Homo sapiens: one gene and its partner. The protein of the gene in region 1 purifies or fractionates together with the protein of each later gene. This does not show direct contact. Each region holds a gene or a part of one and is shown on either strand. Other genes may lie near its edges. The genes, in order: SCLY and PAK2.

The links.
Region 2: the proteins of SCLY (region 1) and PAK2 fractionate together in Homo sapiens (co-fractionation; one large-scale study listed by BioGRID). This does not show direct contact.

What each region holds. Positions count from the first base shown.
Region 1 is NC_000002.12:238,081,417-238,085,236, reverse strand, and holds part of SCLY (selenocysteine lyase), read right to left. Parts: intron 3,529-3,820; coding exon 3,401-3,528; intron 3,193-3,400; coding exon 3,028-3,192; intron 1,990-3,027; coding exon 1,883-1,989; intron 1-1,882. UniProt on the Homo sapiens protein: Catalyzes the decomposition of L-selenocysteine to L-alanine and elemental selenium.
Region 2 is NC_000003.12:196,826,574-196,830,038, reverse strand, and holds part of PAK2 (serine/threonine-protein kinase PAK 2), read right to left. Parts: intron 2,844-3,465; coding exon 2,706-2,843; intron 1,721-2,705; coding exon 1,634-1,720; 3' UTR 1-1,633. UniProt on the Homo sapiens protein: Serine/threonine protein kinase that plays a role in a variety of different signaling pathways including cytoskeleton regulation, cell motility, cell cycle progression, apoptosis or proliferation.

The DNA of each region.
Region 1 (3,820 bases):
TTTGTTTCACTTGTTTCAAGGGTGTTCACAATTTCTCATTGAAGCATTTTTACTGTGTCTGCTGTAAAATATTTGTTAGATAATTTTAACATCATCATCTTAGTGCAGGCGTATATTGATTATTATTGTTCATTCAATTTGAAATCTTTCTAGTTCTTGGTATGATGAATGATTTTCACTTGAAACCTGGACATTTTTGCCTTACTTTATGAGAACCTGGATCTTATTCAATCTTTCTGTTTGGGCTGCCATTTTCTGACGTTGTGCTGGCAGGAGAAGGGGTATGCCACCATCACTGCCAAGTGGAAGTAGAAGTCTAGGTTTCTTTTTTTTTTTTTTTTTTGAGATGGAGTCTCTCTCTGTCACCCAGGCTGGAATGCAGTGGTGCGATCTCGACTCAGTGCAACCTCCGCCTCCCGGGTTCAAATGATTCTCCTGCCTTAGCCTCCCGAGTAGCTGGGATTACAGGAACACACCACCACGCCTGGCTAATTTTTCGTACTTTTAGTAGAGATGGGGTTTCACCATATTAGCCAGGATGGTCTCGATCTCCTGACCTTGTGATCCACCCGCCTCGGCCTCCCAAAGTGCTGGGATTACAGGAGTGAGCCACCGTGCTGGGCTTTTTTTTTTTTTTTTTTTTTTTGAGACAGAGTCTTGTTCTGTCACCCAGACTGAAGTGCAGTGGTGCCATCTCGGATCACTGCAACCTCAGCCTCCCGGGTTCAAGCAATTCTCCTGCCTCAGCTTCCCAAGTAGCTGGGATTACAGGCATGCGCCACCACACCTGGCTAATTTTTATATTTTTAGTAGAGATAAGGTTTTACCATCTCGGCCAGGCTGCTCTCAAACTCCTGACCCCAAGTGATCTGCCCACTTCAGCCTCCCAAAGTGCTGGGATTACAGGCATGAGCCTGTGCCTGGCCAACATCTAGATTTTTTACTTGGCTGATGTTGACACCCAATGGGAGGACGCTCCCTGTGACTGACAGGTGTGGGTCCAAGATCCCGATATGGTCTCTACTGACACCATGGTGGGAGTGCCTAAGTCCCGGTTCTCTACCTGGCCTTCTTGACACACCCGGTGGTGGTGTGGGATACCTTGTTACAGCCTGTATTGGTGGAAGTCTGGGTTTCCCACTCCATCTTTGCAGGTGTGGATAGGCGTGGCAGCACAATTTCCCCTGTAGCATCTGGCTGGAGTAAAGCAAGTGTTGTCTCAAAGTTTTCTGTCTTGCTAGGCCATTCCTTTCCTGGTCCACTGGCTAGAGAGGACAGGCTTTGGTTGGGGCATTTTTGTGTCTGCCCTTACTAGCATATCAGGTTTGCCGGCTTCTTCAGCACTAAGTGTGGGATACACAAGGTGAAAAGAAAACCCAGGAACTCACCACCATGCTGTTCCTGTTTCTCTCTCTTGTTAAGTAGTTTCTAACAAAAGGTGTGGTGGGGGCAACAACTAATTTCCCAGTTAACACGTCACTATACATAGAGGGGACACAGGAGCTATCAGAAAGGAGACCAGTGCTTCTGTGTGGTCCTGCTGATCCCCGAAGTTAAAACAGCAGCAGGCCTCAGCCATGAAGGGTCCAACAGTTCTCTTCAGTGGGCTGGGCCAAAATTACAAGGGGAATTGGATGCATTGGAGCAGTTAAAAGAAACAGAGATTTCCTTCATTGCTTTCAATCATTCCCAAAGAGACTGCAGGTCCTGTGAGCCCTCAGTGTAAAATCAATCAGTGGAGCCAGTTCTGACACAGCAGCAGTGTGGACATGCTACAGAGCCTCCACGAGACCAAGAAACAGCGCCATGTTTCTTTACAATGTCACTGCTCTACAAATGACACGGTCAGTAGGTCAGAGACTTTGTTAACTTTCTGCCTTACCCTGGCCTGAAATTCCGTTCTTGTCCACCTCCAAATAGCATAGGGTAGAGAGGGGTAAATTCACCAAGTCCTCGTATATAAAGTGCGCCAATCCTGGGACCATAAAACTGGAAGGAAAAGTTGGTCATTTATTCAACAAGAACTTTCCAAGGACCTACTCTGTATACATGCTAAGTGCTTAGGGGCACACAGGAGAAATGCTCTGCAATGCATAGTCCTGCTGCTTCCTTGTGGCGCCTCTGAGTGCCACCCCTTTTGACACGCAGAGTCACAAAAGCCTTCGGGGCAGGGTGGAACCCCAACCTAGGAGGCAGCGCAGGTGCTAGACTCTCGTGCTCAGCTCTGTGGCAGGCAGCTCTCCCCTGCGCATCATGTGATAGAATTTGTAAAAGGATCTCAAATCATATGAATCACAGGTTTAAAAAAAAAAAAAAGAAAGAGAATGCATAAATAGAGAGGGGTTGGAACCAGCGGTTGGCCAGGGCTTTTCCTGCAAATGATTCCATGTTTCCAACTGACACAATGCAGAACTCTGGAGTGCCAGTGTCAGGCCAGCATAGACACTCCTTTGGAAACCAGCTGAGGACTGTGCTTCAAAATTGAGTACTAAAAATATCTCGGGCCCTGGTAAGCTGCCAGAAAGATGTGCAAAATTTTCAGAAGGGTCTTCACTGTTAACTATTTTCCCCATACTCCCACCTTAAAGATAGCTGCAAAGGTTTTGCTGAGGAGCCGCATCTGAAATCACATTAGAGAAAGCAACGATTTCCTGTCCCTACATCTTCCACCCCACACCCTCTGCAGATGCCCTGTCCGCTGCAGAGACACTCGCTGCCTGGCCGAACCCCCTGCCTTACTCTCCCTGAGATCTCGACGTCTCCTCCCCTAGCTTGGTCTACCGCCCCCACCCTGCCCCATGTGGGCTGGGCACCCCCCCCATCATCCCTGCCATGGCATTCGTCCTGGCATGCTGGCCATGTGGGGCTCCCCTCTTAAAGCTCCTGAGGACAAGGATCCCACGTTGCTCCTCGCAGTGCCCCCAAGGCCTGGCTCACGGTGGGCAGTGAGGCTTACGGACCGAGGAGTAAACAGCCACCTGCGCAGTAGGCTCTGCCCACAGAGGCAGGAAGCCTCTGCAGACTTACCTTGTGCCCCACGATTGTAAGGAAGTCCACGCCCAGGTCCTCCACATCCACGCGCTGCTTCCCCAAGGCCTGTGCAGCATCCGTGTGCACGAGGATGGGAGGTAGCCCAGCTGCCACCCGTTCCTGGTTCAGGGCTTTAATGCGCTGACTGATTTCAGGGACAGGCTGACGGGGAAAGGAAACAGTTGAGTATGTTGCTCCGATCTGATGAAAACTGAATGACAGAAATCAGGAGTAGTGAGCGCAGGCCAAATGTTATCAAAGTGAACAGAGAAACGGGAGAGGCCAGAGCTGGGAAACCTGAAACGCCATGAGTCTAAGCTGCTGTTCTTCCCCATGAGCTCTCCTTAAAGAGAAACAAAGGCCGACTCACCATGACAATGCCAGTCTCATTGTTGGCCAGCATGATGGTCACGAGGCGTGTGGTCGGGCGGACTGCCGCGAGGATGTCGTCCACCTCTGCCTGCCCGCTCACCTTGGACACCGGGACAAAGGTGACCGCTGGGAAACAAACATGAGTACCGAACTGAGCTGCACAAATTGATTCCTCTCAAAACTGCGTTCCAACAGAGCTTAACAGTTTTCTACAACTATAAAAGTAAATTGTTGTCCAAGTTCAGAAGACTATAAAGAAGAATATAAGCCGCCCATCATCACTGGCCCAGAGTCACTGTCAGGTGCTTCAGTGTGAACGTGTCTTTAACGCGGCTGCAGTCAGTGAATCTGTGTCGTGGAAGCTGTGTGCCTTTCTGCTTCTACGGAGACGGAAGAGGAAGAGGCAACAGGGATGCAG
Region 2 (3,465 bases), on another chromosome or scaffold:
TTAATGGGGGAAGGGGATGGTGGGAACAAAATGCCAGAACCAAACCACAGATACTTGAACAACACCCACTCCAAAAGCAAAACAATGAATAAAGGAGAAGAAGAGGAGAGGAAAAAAGAGAAGAGAAAAGGGAGGGGAGGGGAGAAGGGAGGGCACTCAAATAATTAATGCTACAGGTCTCAGACCTTTTAGAATCTTTAAAAGAAACAAATTATTGCTATCAACACGCACATTTCATTTTCCTTTCTCGTTTTTTACAATAGTCTCTACTTATTTGAAAAAACAAAACAAAACTAAACTAAAGTAACTCAACATCTCAAATGATCTATAAATTCATCAAGAAATACTCTGTCGCTCAAGTTCTCATAGATAATACCACACTGCTGACGACCTGGGGCAATGCCACCGCCGCCAAGTCTCTACAGTCGATTTGCTATCGGCTGCTTCTCTGTAACACTAACATTCTCTTTCATGAGTATAATCTCTTCTCACTGTATCAGAGCTCACCAAGGTTCACATCTCTTACTGCCTCTGCTGCTAGTCCCAAATATTTTTCTCCTTTAAGTGGAAAAAAGCTAATTTTTAAATTCCTGAAAATTCACTGGTTATTATATTATTTGCCATGGGAGGGGGTATCTGTGAGGTGAGAGAGGATTAATGAAAAAGAAAAAGAACAAACCTAAACCTAAAATTGCAACATATACAGAAATTTATTTCCAAATTGAAGGGGGAAAGGAGGGAAGAAGGTAGTGGCACTAACCAAAGTCACAAAGCCCAGGTTGGAACAACAACAAATCACTTTGGTTCCTAGAGCCAAGCCTGAAGGGGAAACAGGCAGAAGGGAAGACAAAATGGGAAGAAGTCTACAGTCAATGGGAATCTTTTTCTATCTCAATGATTTAGTTATAAATAGAGATTATTAGTCTTCTCTCTATACATGTAACAAATGCCGAACTTACTACCACGAAATTTCTAAAACTGACTTTTTCACATTTGTTAAAAAAGGTAAAAATCACATACTTTTCTTCCCTTCCTTCAGGTCAAGTTCTGAACTAAAATATTACATGTAACAACAGCTGGTCCTAACTTTTATACAAAGTGAAACTATATAGAGCTCCTTTGCCAACATAAGGAGCTACATAATTTCTATTACACTTGCCTAGGCATGAGAAACGCAAAAGCAACTCAAAAGGAGCAAGTCCAGGAAAAGAAAAGCTATGAAGGAGAGAAAGACTAGCAGATGAAACACATACTCTGAAAAACTCCAATCTGCCATTCAAGTATTGGAAATACCCCAAAGGGGACAATGAATGGGATCTATTACAACAAAGTCAGCAAAGTAAAATGCAAATCTCACACATGATAAATGGCCCTGATAGGCTGTTTGCTGAAAGACCTAAGGCTAGTGATTCAGTCCACAATTCCTTCTGGACCCTAAAGAAGGGGTTCATATAAAAGTCATACTTGTCTTTTTGCAATTTTCTCTTGGTTGTCTTCAGAGAATAGTCATTTGCTTCTTTCATTCAGGTTATGCAGACCATTTCTTTAAACCCCAAAAAGAGTAATAATTTTCATATACTAAAAGGCTTCTTGTAGAAAATGGAAAAAAGAGTATGAGGCCACAGCAGTGATGTTAACGGTTACTCTTCATTGCTTCTTTAGCTGCCATGATCAGTGGTGTCAAGCTAGATAACGGTTTGGCCAGTTTCAGGAAAGGATGCTGCCAGAAAGAAGGGGAAAAATAAATGTATAAGTGCCATTCATCAGGTTAGAAACAAAATAATTTTGTTCAATTAAGCCCCAAAGACTACTTGTCGATCATAATTTAATAAACTAAACACATATTAATACCTTCATAAGACTAACATAATCAACGCATTACTTTCAGAGTTGAATGAAAGCAGAATCATTTTAGTTTGACAAATATACACACAACAGCAATAAACAGGTCTGAGGAGTGATACGATGCACAAACTGTAAACAGGTCTGAGGATTGATACGATGCACAAACTGTAAACAGGTCTGAGGATTGATACGATGCACAAACTGTAAACAGGTCTGAGGATTGATACGATGCACAAACTGTAAACAGGTCTGAGGATTGATACGATGCACAAACTGTAAACAGGTCTGAGGATTGATACGATGCACAAACTGTAAACAGGTCTGAGGATTGATACGATGCACAAACTGTAAACAGGTCTGAGGATTGATACGATGCACAAACTGCACATTACGGTTTTGTCAGAATTTTATTCACAGCAGATGAAACCCTCACTTTTTTTTTTAATACTTTAAGTTCTAGGGTACATGCGCACAACGTGCAGGTTTGTTACATATGTACACATGTGCCATGTTGCTGTGCTGCACCTGTTAACTCATCATTTACATTAGGTATATCTCCTAATGCTATCCCTCCCCACTCCCCCCACCCCACAACAGGCCCCGGTGTGTGATGTTCCCCTTCCTGTGTCCAGGTGTTCTCATTGTTCAATTCCCACCTATGAGTGGGAACATGCAGTGTTTGGTTTTCTGTCCTTGCGGTAGTTTGCTCAGCATGGTAGGATGAAACCCTAAATTGCAGCAGCTGCCATACCGCTGGTGATCAATGAGTAGTGAAATCTACTTATTAGCCCTAGGAAAGCTTTCTGTCGGTTACCAAAAAAGTCAACTATTCCCCCAAATGAAATCATTTTTAAATTTACCTGTAATAATTCTTTGGCTGAACCCCTTTTTTCCACATCCATTTCCAAACATCGATTTAAGAAATCCCGAAATATTGGGGAAAGTTTCTCTGGATTCTGAAGTTCTGGGGTTCCATTAGTTGCTATTAGGTACAAGGCCTAAAAATAGAAGAACATCTTTGATCCACTTAAGATAGCTCAACACGGTCACAGAGCACTCCATAAAGTCTAAGGGATTCTTTCTTCTTTAAAGAAAATCACCATAAATACTAAACTGGGGTTATCATTATCCCATTTAAATTTAGATTTGATACTTTCCTCTTATTTTTAGATGTTACATTTCCTTAAGTTACTTTTCTGAAATCAGATTCACCTTTGGTTTTTCTTCGGTTATAAATGCAATACATATTGCTTTTGTTTTGTTTTTTTTTGTTGAGACGGAATCTTGCTCTGTCACCCAGGCTGGAGTGCAGTGGTGCAATCTTGGCTCACTGCAACCTCTGCCTCCTGGGTTCAAGTGACTTTCCTGCCTCAGCCTCCCGAGTAGCTGGGATTACAGATGCATACCACCATGACCTGCTAATCTTTGTATTTTTAGTAGAGGTGGGGTTTCATCATATTGGTCAGGCTGGTCTTGAACTCCTGACCTCAAATGATCCACCTGCCTCGGCCTCCCAAAGTGCTGGATTGCAGGTGTGAGCCACTGTGCCCAGCCCATATTGCTTTAAAAAATAAAACAATGTTAATAATTAAAAATAACCACAACCTCACCATTGACCAT